Homo sapiens: one gene and its partners. The protein of the gene in region 3 interacts with the protein of the main gene of each other region in a pairwise test. Each region holds a gene or a part of one and is shown on either strand. Other genes may lie near its edges.

Region 1 (3,645 bases), on a different chromosome or scaffold from region 3:
ATTCCCTGCCCGGCCCCAGAGCCACTCACAGTTTTGTCATTGGGCTGCTGCTGCTGGAGTTGCTTCATCATGATGCTTCGCTTCTTGTCCTTGCACCGCTTGTTTTGAAACCAGACCCGGATCACACGGGGACTGAGGCCCGTCATCTCTACCAGTTGCTCCTTCATGAGCGCATCTGGCCGCGGGTTTGCGGCGTAGCAGGTCCGCAAGGTGTGCAGCTGCTTCTCGTTCAGCACAGTCCGCACGCGGGTGGTCTTCTCCGGCTGCTTGTGGACGTGGGGCCGCAGGGCTGGCTGCCTGGCGGAGATGGGCTCCGCTGCGGGGCAAGGAGCGCCGTGAGCGCTGGGCTGGAGGCTCGCTTGCCGGCCCGCCCGCGGTCGCGCGCTCGCTCGCTCGCTCGCTTGCCCGCCCGCCCGCCCGCTTACTTGCTCGCCCGCCCGAGATACTCAGGACAATGGCTAGGGTTTGCAGCCTCAGCACACAAAGCAGGGGGCGGCAGAGGTGGGGGCGAAGAGGGTGAAAGGGAGAATAAAATCTTCCTCTCTAATCTGCAGAGGTCTTTGCTGAGTAATCCCGGCCTGAAACGCAGCACTCGCCCCTCCTCGTGTCAACAAAGTGTTAGCCAAGGGAAGCAGGTCTCAAAGTCTGTCCCCCTGTTCACAGCAGGGGTGGCATTTTTCAGCACTGTTTCTCCTCCATTCTCACCTTTCCTTGTGCCCAGACTGGGCCCCAGTTACATTGATTACCACCCTCTCCAGGATCAGAATTTTCTCTTGGGCCAAGGCCACAGAGGGTACCAGGGAAAGGAACGCAGAGCACTTCAGTGACAGCCATAAATACTACACCAGCAGGGACTTCTGCAAGGGGAAGGTCGAGAACTCTGCCAGAACGCCTTGAACTTCAGTCCGAGAGGACAGTCATGTGAAGGGGCTGAAGAGATTCGCTATTTCTGCCATATCTCCAATCCCTGCTCTTAGTATTAAATCTAAGGTAATACATGGATGTTCCTGAGATGGGCTGATCCCAAGCAGTGGAAAACGGAAACTCTGTTGAGCTGCCTAGGCTCTAGATAAACGGTGGCTGGGAGATGTCCCCCGCCTCCCTCTCGGTATTTTAGCTTCCTCTGTGCTTCCCCACAAGCAGAGTGCAGGCTCCACTGAACAGGAGCACCACCCCAGCCGTGCCCCGGTGCAAACTAGTCACAAATCCCCCTGAACAGAATTCTTAGAGCTGCCAGAAGGCAGAAGGGTAAGGGAGGGCTATAGTTTCCTCACCTTCAGTGTTTAGTGGGAATTGATACTTTAAAACTGCAAAGGGGTAGATCTATTCATGGCAGGAAGTCAGGTTTGGAAACACTGTCCACCTTCTAACCCACTGCTTTGGTCCCGGCCAACCTTGCTGTGTTTCCACTCCTCTTCCTTGGGAATGAGTCCTCTTATCTACATGATACAAATCCTGCACCTTCTACAACCCCCTAGGGTCAGGCCAACACCTATGGGGTCAATTTAGAGCTACAACCATGGGCCTGAAGATGAAATTCTCACCAAATCATATAGAATGAATGATTTAAAGAAGCAGGCTCCCTTTAAAAGGCAATTACTGCAGATAAGCTTGTTGACAGTTTTATATTACAACTCTGTGCAATGGCCTGCAGTTTTTAAAACTGTATCTTTTCAGTCCTGTTCTCTCACAGAAAGATAAAAAAATTAAAAAAAAAATTTCGAGTGTGAAGCAACTCACAAGGAAAAAGGATTTGGGAGACTAAATGACTTCAGGCCACCTAAGCTTCCTTCATTGGGTTAAAGGATGAAGCTCCAGGGACCCGGGGCTCCGCCCCTTTAATTAGGCAGCAGGAGAATACCTGGCTGGGAGCTGAAGCCCGTTTTCAGCAAGCCAAGGTTTGGAGGCCAGAGCGAACTGGAAGTAATGTTTGGGCGTGTGTATACACGTGTACACAAGTGGTGTACATTTATGTGTAACCATATAGAGACACACAGACGGTGTAGGTGTGCTCGGGGAATCAAGGGAGACAGTGAGTGCATTGAACCTTGCTGCAAAGGAGCAGAGCACAGCGCAAATTGCATACAGAACACTTCATTTAACTGCAGGCAAACACTACGACCACCCCTGTAGCTACCATAGTTGTTGTGGCCGCTGGCACACAGGCTGGCTTAACCTGGCGCCTGCCTACCCGAGCCGGGCAGAGGAGTACCTGCCATTTGCAGTGGCCGCGCTGGATGCAGGGGACTGAGCGGGTCGCCAGCGCCTAGACTGGCCCTCTCCACCACATCGTGGTCTGCTCGGCAGAAGAGACCGTCCTCCCGAAGCGCAAATTCGTCCCCAGGGATGAGCTGGCGGCTGCAGGCCACACAGCGGAAACACTCGATGTGATACACCTTGGAGCGGGCACGCATCACGAAGTCGTTCTTGCTGAAGCCGATGCTGCACTTGGCGCATTTGATCCCGTACAACCTGTGCGGGGGAGGGGGGAGCGGAGGCGGCCCAGAGCGGGGAGAGAAGTACAGGAAGAGGGGGTCACTTCAGGCCGGCACTTCCCTGGCCCAAGATCCCGGGCAAGACGCCCCAAGTAAACAGCATTTCCAAACAGAAGTTGGAAACAGAAGGACAGAAATGAAACCCTGCTCTCTCCTTCCCTGTCTCTCTTCCTTCCCCCATCTCTCTTTTCCCCTCCCTCCCTCCTCCCTTTCTTTTACTCCCGTTTCCTTTCCGATGAACCTCTGTCTTAGTTGGTAACTCTTAGCTCAAAACACCTAGCTTGTACCACAGAAAATGTATTGATGGGTTCCAAACTCGGGCTGCTGCTCTAGCAATCAATCCCAGTGTTGATCTTGCAGATCTTGGCAGGAAGGAATCCAGAAAGACTCTGGTGGCCACCGACACCAACACTTTCACTTCCCTATCCCACAATTTCTGCTGCTAGAAATGTCTAAAACTGCAACAAAAAGTCCTCCTTCCAAGAAAAAAGGAGGTAGGAGAAGGGGATTGTCACCCCACTCGGTTTGCAAACACTCACAAATAAACAAGCAGAATAACAAAATGAAACCTCTGAGAGTTTCCACATCTCCTTTTGCACAAGTACTTTCCAGTCTTTCTCCAACTAAAGATTTTCTTCAGGCAGCAATGTTAACAGAAAATTTCCTCTCCATTCTTCCTTGTATTATTATTTTTTTAAAAAAATCTGCGTCTGTTCCCTCAATCTTTTTCAAGTTGCTGAATCATCTACCTCATTTCAATTTTCTTGAAAACCATGACCAGAATGAAAAAAATGCAAAGACCCGCTTCTAAGGTCTTTCTCACTCCTGGCCTTTCCTTACCAAGGGACAATCTTTATAGGTTCCATCTAGGCTGCACTTCCCTGGCCCCTTCTCCATCTTTCAGGAATAACAGAAGCTGGGGCATTCCTACGAACAGAAAGAATGGAAGAGAGAGGAAAAGATCCACATAACAGGAGGAGGCATCCTGCTTCTCCAAGGAGAGATGTGGAAATCTAACTGTCCAGTCTGTTCTGCTTTTACAACTACAAGATTACACACACACACACACACACACACACACACACACACAGAGTTGAGAGAGAGTGAAGAGAAGGTAAAAATGATTAGTTCCTTCTACACATGTGTGTAT
Region 2 (3,645 bases), on a different chromosome or scaffold from region 3:
AGGAAGAGCATTCCAGGCAGAGAGAACAGGCAATGCCAGGGCCCTGAGGCTGAGACATGCCTGGTGTGTTTGGGAAAAATGGGGGAAGTTCAAGTTGCTGGAACACAGTAATTGGGGCAGGAAGTAGGGGGAGATGAGGGCAAGGATGTCATGGGGAAGAATGTGCAGGGTTTTGCGGTCCAAGGAAAGGACTTTGGCTTTTCTGCTGAGGAAGGTGGGAGCCATAGAGGGTTCTGAGCAGAGGGGGGATGCGACCTGGCTCAGGTGTTCACAGGCGCCCTCTGGCTGCCGTAGGGGGGACAGACAGTGGGGGATGGGAGCAGGGGGGGCCAGGGTGGAGGCTGCTGCACTGGTCCAGGTGATCAGTAGTGAAGGCTGGGCCAGGGTGGGACAGTGGCAGTGGGGTGAAGTGTGTGGATTCTGGATAAGGAGGAAGGTAGAGCCTACAGGATTTAGAGTGGGTTGGATGTGCATGTGAAGAACAGGTGTCGAGAACAACCTGAACCTGGGGACATGAGCACTTAGGAGGACAGAGTTGCCATTAGTGAGTTGGGGCAGATTGGAGGCGGGCGGGAGCAGGAGGCACCCGTGCTGTGTATGAAGTGCCCTTGACACCCCCATGTGGGGCACCTGGATGCAGTTGCCACCAGGGGTGCAGACTGGGGACATTTGGGAGCTGATGACTAAAGACCTGAGTGTCCCTGGGGGGCCCAGTGTAGCTGGGAAGAGAAGGGGCCAGTGTCTTAGGTCCACTCTCTATAGGAGTGGGAAGAGTGGCTGGGTGTGGTGGTGCATGCCTGTAGTCCCAGCTACTTGGGAGGCTGAGGTGGGAGGATGGCTTGAGTCCAGGAGTTGGAGGCTGCAGTGCAGTATGATTGCACCTGTGAATAATAACTGCATTTAGCCTGGGCAACACAGCAAGACTCCGTCTTTCAATAAAATAAAAATAGGCCAGGCATGGTGGCTCACACCTATAATCCCAGTATTTTGGGAGGCCGAGATGGGAGAACTGCTTGAGGCCAGAAGTTCAATACCAGCCTAGGTAACACAGTGAGATCCTGTTTCTACAAAAAAAAAAATTTAAAGATTAGCTGAGGCCGGGGGAGGTGGCTCACACCTGTAATCCCAGCACTTTGGGAGGCGGAGGCGGGCGGATCATGAGATCAGGAGCTCGAGACCAGCCTGACCAACATGATGAAACCCTGTCTCTGCTAAAATTATAAAAATTAGGTAAGGCGCGGTGGCTCACGCCTGTAATCCCAGCACTTTGGGAGGCCGAGATGAGCGGATCACAAGGTCAAGAGGTCAAGACCATCCTGGCCAACATGGTGAAACCCGTCTCTACTAAAAATACAAAAAAATAAAAAAAAAATTAGCTAGGCGTGGTGGTGGGCGCCTGTAATCCCAGCTAGTCAGGAGGCTGAGGCAGGAGAATTGCTTGAACCCGGTAAGCAGAGGTTGCAATGAGCCGAGATGTCGCCATTGCACTCCAGCCTGGCGACAGAGCAACACTCCATCTCAAAAAAAAAAAAAAGAAAAAAAAAATGCTGGTCAGGCGTGGTGGTGGGCGCCTGTAGTCTCAGCTACTTGCGGGGCTTAGGCGGTAGGATTGCTTGAGCCCAAGAGGTCGAGGCTGTAGTGAGCTGAGATCACACCATTGCATTCCAGCCTGGGTAAAAAAGTGAGATCCTGTCTTTAAAAAAAAAAAAAGGTCAATGTTTGTTGATGGACTGTCAAGCATGTGATAGTGATGTGAGCCGGCTATTCAAGGATCCCTTTGGGGTCACATGTCACCCCAGGGAGACATGTCCTCCCTAGGTGGCAGGTCCCCATCACTCTATACAGGCAGTCCAAGTTGTTACAGCCACTGCCATGTCCCCTCTCCCATATCTGACTCAGCCCCACCCCACGGTGACAACTCTAGAGATACTTATTGAGTGACGGATGGGTCACTTCTGCTAACTCCGTGATGGTTTAGACATGGCCTCACTCTCTCCATCTGTGAAATGGGTCTCTGCCTCACCCCTGTCCATCTGACCCCCTCACCCAGGTGTCCTATGCCAGACCCAGTTCAGCATCCATCCGGGATGCTAACCTGTACGTCAGCGGGCTCCCCAAGACCATGAGCCAGAAAGAGATGGAGCAGCTCTTCTCCCAGTACGGCCGCATCATCACGTCCCGCATCCTGGTGGACCAGGTCACAGGTCAGGCAGTCAGGGAGGGTGCACCTGGCGGGGGCGCTGGGCAAAGGCAGTCAGGTGGGACCAACGTGGGGAAACCGACCAAGATGCCAGGGCATGAAGCAGGGAAGGGAGAAGTGGGGTTACACAGGAGGGGACAGGGTCGTCGTGATGGACATCCCTGCCCCCTGGCAGGTGTCTCTCGGGGTGTGGGATTCATCCGCTTTGACAAGAGGATTGAGGCCGAAGAGGCTATCAAAGGACTGAATGGGCAGAAGCCGCTGGGCGCAGCTGAGCCCATCACAGTCAAGTTCGCGAACAACCCAAGTCAGAAGACGGGGCAGGCGCTGCTCACCCACCTCTACCAGTCATCCGCCCGGCGCTACGCAGGCCCCCTACACCATCAGACCCAGCGTTTCCGGTGAGCCCCCTGCCAGCCAGATGGCCCCAGGCCGGGTGCCCCCAAGCTTGCAACCCTCCCTGAACCCCATTCCTGCCGAAGGGAGGGATGCCGGGAGGGTGCGCACACATGGGAGCCAAGGAGCCTATCTGTCAGGTGCCAAGGCCAGCCACTCATATACAGCAGGCCCTCAATGTGTGCTGGCCGCGACGATTGGCATTCTTGGTGTTAAAAGATTTTGGCGTCATCTGGGTTCCAGCTCTGGTGGCCCCTTTCTCTTTTGGGCACGTGGCTGTAGCTCTGTGCCTCAGTTTCCCATCTGTAATAACACCAAATATTTCATGAGTCTTTGCTGTGTGCTAGACACCCTTATTTTTCTGCAACCCGATGAGAACAGAGCTTGTGTTGTCCCTGTTTTATGGACGGGGACCCTGAGGCACAGAGAGGTGTTGGGGTTTGCCTGGCCCAAACAGAGCAGAGACTCAAACCCAGGACCTGGAGTCCAAGCTCATAGCCACTCCAAGGGGAGACAATGGAAGCCCCTTGTGGGCCCCCGGGTGGCCGGGGCAAGTTACCCACCCCCTCAAGTGCTGCGAGAATGTTGGCTGTGGTAGTTACTGTCGCCTTTGTTAGGAGTTATCTTTCCCCAGGGATCCCAGCGCCTGGGCCCAGAGGGGACCCGCCAGCCAGGAGGGGGAGGATGGATGAGGAGGCCAGTGCAGGCTGGACAGCGGTGGGGCAGGCGAGAGGCGGTGCCTGAGTGACCACGGTTCCGTGCCAGGCAGTGTCTAGCCGGGCGGGCGGGGAGCAGGCAGGCGGGGGCAGGGCTCTGCTGCAGGCCTGTTGGGTGGGGGTGGGGAGGGCAGGCCGACGGTGTCACAGCAGGGGGGCGTGACTGGAAGCCACCTCTGACCACCACCTCTGCCTCCACAGGCTGGACAATTTGCTCAACATGGCCTACGGCGTCAAGAGGTAACAGTGACCCCGCCCCACTGTCCCCACCCCTCACCATCCATGCCCCTGATGCACCCCTCCCCAGCTCACCCCCAGGGCTGCAGGCTTAGC
Region 3 (3,745 bases):
GTATCAGATTTTAGATGGAAAAAAGATCAAACTCTGTCACCTTTATGGGATAACCATGAGTATACTGCAGGAGAACTGGTCTTTGAGCTTCATTCCAACAGAATGCACTGAGTAGCAGAGTTTTGCAAATTCAGCCCTTTTCTGTCTATAAATATGTCTCTCAAATTTACCCAACCTCCAGATCACAGTGAGCGATGAACCCTCAGAATGTCCACCATTTAGAAACCACATACTTTGAAACTCTATCTCAACCCATCTCAGAGACTAACTAATGTTCTCTAGATACAGAGATCACCAATACCTAGCCTCTGAAACTACAGACATTGCAGGCAACATGCCCACCGCACTTAGACACTTGGTATACCCAGAGGAGAAATCTGTTGATACACATAAGCATTTGGGGAAAGGGCTGGTTCAGGCTGCAGCCAAGGGAGGCGGGTTAGACTTCAGAGGGCATCTTTCTCCTGGCAGCAGGGAACTTAGGAACAACTCTAGAAACACACACACACATACTGTCTGGACTTGGTGAAGAATGATTCTGGGAGGCAGATGCAAGAGGCAGAGCAACATGGCTGAGAAACGGGAAATTTTTACTAGGATGAGAAATCCCTCAAGGGCTGAGATGGGGATCCCTTGTTCTAATCATCAAAACCTGTGTCTTTGTACCCCAAATCTCCAACACCCCAATAAGTAGAGGAGACAAGAAAAGAGAAATGATAATAAGAGTTGAGGTATTAAGGGAAAGTGGGTAGGCACAGACTTGTGGTGACAAGGAATGGTCTGGGAGACAAATAATAGGAGTAGATAGAAAAGGAGGCAGAAATGATGGTAAATGCCCAGGGGCAAGGGAATACACCTGAAGGGCTCGACTGGACATGTGTCAGAGCAAAGGAGGCAGACCTAATGCGGAGGCTATGAGAAGGGGTCAAGACGGACTAGTAAAGAAGTGATAGAGATATAAGGGAGCGACCACATAGAAAAGAGATAAGAGAGAGGCAATGAACACCAGAGAGGGGACTGATATAGGGGAAGGACAGAAGGGGGACTCATATAAGGAACGGACACCATATGGGGGGAAAGATATAGGTGATGGACAGCAGAGGAGGGAGGGGGAATGGAAATAAGGATTGGAGGGGTGGGGGAAGGGGGTAAAAGTGATGAAGTGAAGACAGCATTAAGACCCCAGAGGTTACATTTTACTGGTCAAGAGCCTTTAAGAGGGTCAGAGTCTGGGGCAGGATCCTAACCTGTCCCCTACTCCCATCATTTCATCTTACTTGTACTGCCACCCCCCCAAGCACACATAATTTGGCCCTCCCCCTGCCCTGGTCTCCCCTCCCCCACCGTTCCCTCTCTCTTCTCTCTTCCCTCCATCTGGACCCTCCATCCCCCCACCCCCCACTGCCTCCCTCTCTCTCCATCTGGCCCCTTCTCTCCCTCCATCCTCCTCTCTTTTTCCGCCCCTTACCATACTCTGAGTCCCCCACCAAATTATCCCCCCACATCTTCTTGGCTTCTCTTTTCACCCCTATGTTTTCATTTCTCCTTCCTAGCCCCTCTCCCAAGACTCTGTCCCTCTATTTCCTTGATGTTTTCCTCATCACTCAGCTCCCACCCCCAAATTATTTCTGCAGCTTTTTCCCCAACCCAATCCTTCTACCTTCCCACCCCTTTCTGGCGCTTTCTTTCCCCTTCATCATTTTCCCTTCAGCCCCCTTTCAAGGCCCATTTCCTGGCCCCTCCATCCCTTATCTACCCCTATCCCTCTGGCCTCCAATCCCTCCTTCCCGGTTGCTCCCACCCCTGCCTTCCCGGTCCTCCCCTCTCCCTCCATTTCAGCCGCTCCCTTCCCTCGGCCCCGACTCTCCCCCGCCCCCTGCCCCTCCCCCTGTTGCCCCCCATATGGCCCTCCCCCTCCCCCCACCACGTACCTCTGAAGGGGGCATAGGACATCGCGGGGATGCTCCCCCGATGGATGGAGGCTCGAGACCTGCTCATCAGGCCTGGGGGGAGGGGGCGGGGGGACGGGGGAGAAAGAAGAGAGAAAGAGGGGGAGAAAGAGGGGGAGAAGGAGGAGGAGGTGGAGGAGGAGGAGGAGGAGAGAGGAGGAGAGAGGAGCAGAGAGAAGCAGAGAGGAGGAGAGAGGAGGAGGAGGAGGAGAATAAGAGCCAACGGCAGCAGCGGCAGCCGAGAGAGAGGGGGGGCGGGGGAGCGAGCGAGAGCGAAGAGAGCAGGAGGAGGAGGAGGAGGGAGAGACTCTGCAGCCCCCACCCCTACTCCGGGAGGCCCAGATTGTGAGAGAGAGAGAGACCCCTGACTCAAAAACACACCAGAGAGAGACAGAGGTCCTAAAGATGCAGACCCCAGACCCTGAGACAGAGAGACCCTAGACCCACAGAGAAAGATACTTCACCACCCCCCACTGTGGGGTAATTTGAGACACAGGGCCAAAATCTAGAGGAAAAGAGACTCCTGATTTGAGGAAAAAACGACCCCAGATCCCCCAGAGAGAGAAGCTCAATATCAAAATCTGAAAATCCAGTCTAAAAAGGGTTCTCCATACCTACAGATATCTTAGACTCCAGACCCTGAGATGATGATTTCAGGGACCAGGACCTGAGACCTAGACTCAGAAAAAGATGAGGCCCAGATTCAGAAAGAGCCAGATGTAGAATTAGAGCTTAGAGAACTCAGACCTAGAAAGAGACCCCAGACTCAGATCTCAGAGACTGATAACTTAGAGACAGAGACACTCCTGACTTAAGGGGAGATAGAGACTTCAGCTGGTCCGGAGATGGACAACTCAGAGACCCAAAATTCATGAAGAAGACTTCGAAAGACCTCAGAGTGCGACCACAGACCCTGAAACATAGAAACCCCCCAAACCAGAAGCATAAAAGGAAACTCAATCCTAAGAAAGATCTCCACACAAATACTGAAAGACCCCTCCGAAATCTGTCTCAGAGACAAACTCCAAACTCAAAGACAGAGATCTCAGGGAACCTCCCCTCCCCACTTCCCTGCCCTAGAACCTCCGAGAGGTATAACCCTGACGTCAGCCTGGGAAACTCCGAGGCATCCCCACCACCAGACCAATGACCTCAGACCTTGAAGGGAGGGGAAATATTGGGTGGGGGCAGTGGCAAGAGCTTTTTTCTCTGCACCTCCTCCCACCTCTCTGCCTCTCATTGGCCCCTCTCTCCATTTTTGGGTCACAGGATGTGCTTGGGCCCCAGGGAAGTTATGTAGGGCAGGTCCTGGCTCCTTGGGGGATGGGTTAGGGAAAGGAGACCCGAGGCTGAGAGGTGGACCAATCCTGGGGAGTGGAATAGGCAGGGAAGAGGGGACAGAAGGACCATCACCACTGTCCCCATCCTGCAGCCCTCGTTCTCCTTCCCTCTGATTCAGTAGTCTGTCTCAAGCTTTGGGTTTTCAATTAAGATGGCTAGGCCCCATTTTCACCATCCTCTACCACAGGGTCTCGCTCTGTTTTAAAATGCTTCTTTCCTCAGCTAGCTATTGTCTTGCCATGCCCGTGCCTGCCTAATCACTCCCTGCTACCCAGGGACAGCGGGCTTCTAGATCACCGTTGTTCATTCCCAAACCCAGGCATATCTCTGCCCAACTAAAAGGGCAGGGGGCGCTCTCTTAACCCCTGAGTTTGGGGTGAAGGGTCCTTCTCAGACCCTCCCACTCCTTAAGACCTCGGAAACAGTGCAGGGGAGGTCACTAGGCACATTGTGGG

The links.
Region 1: the proteins of SYNGAP1 (region 3) and ISL1 interact in binary tests that used the Homo sapiens proteins (3 or more experiments, as listed by UniProt).
Region 2: the proteins of SYNGAP1 (region 3) and ELAVL3 interact in binary tests that used the Homo sapiens proteins (3 or more experiments, as listed by UniProt).

What each region holds. Positions count from the first base shown.
Region 1 is NC_000005.10:51,386,317-51,389,961, reverse strand, and holds part of ISL1 (insulin gene enhancer protein ISL-1), read right to left. Parts: exon of another isoform or gene 3,362-3,645; coding exon of another isoform or gene 3,336-3,361; intron 2,473-3,335; coding exon 2,213-2,472; intron 317-2,212; coding exon 30-316; intron 1-29. UniProt on the Homo sapiens protein: DNA-binding transcriptional activator. Recognizes and binds to the consensus octamer binding site 5'-ATAATTAA-3' in promoter of target genes. Plays a fundamental role in the gene regulatory network essential for retinal ganglion cell (RGC) differentiation.
Region 2 is NC_000019.10:11,457,017-11,460,661, reverse strand, and holds part of ELAVL3 (ELAV-like protein 3), read left to right. Parts: intron 1-2,050; coding exon 2,051-2,204; intron 2,205-2,375; coding exon 2,376-2,601; intron 2,602-3,513; coding exon 3,514-3,552; intron 3,553-3,645. UniProt on the Homo sapiens protein: RNA-binding protein that binds to AU-rich element (ARE) sequences of target mRNAs, including VEGF mRNA. May also bind poly-A tracts via RRM 3. May be involved in neuronal differentiation and maintenance.
Region 3 is NC_000006.12:33,418,518-33,422,262, reverse strand, and holds the start of SYNGAP1 (ras/Rap GTPase-activating protein SynGAP), read right to left. Parts: upstream 2,199-3,745; 5' UTR 1,999-2,198; coding exon 1,932-1,998; intron 1,262-1,931; exon of another isoform or gene 1-1,261. UniProt on the Homo sapiens protein: Major constituent of the PSD essential for postsynaptic signaling. Inhibitory regulator of the Ras-cAMP pathway.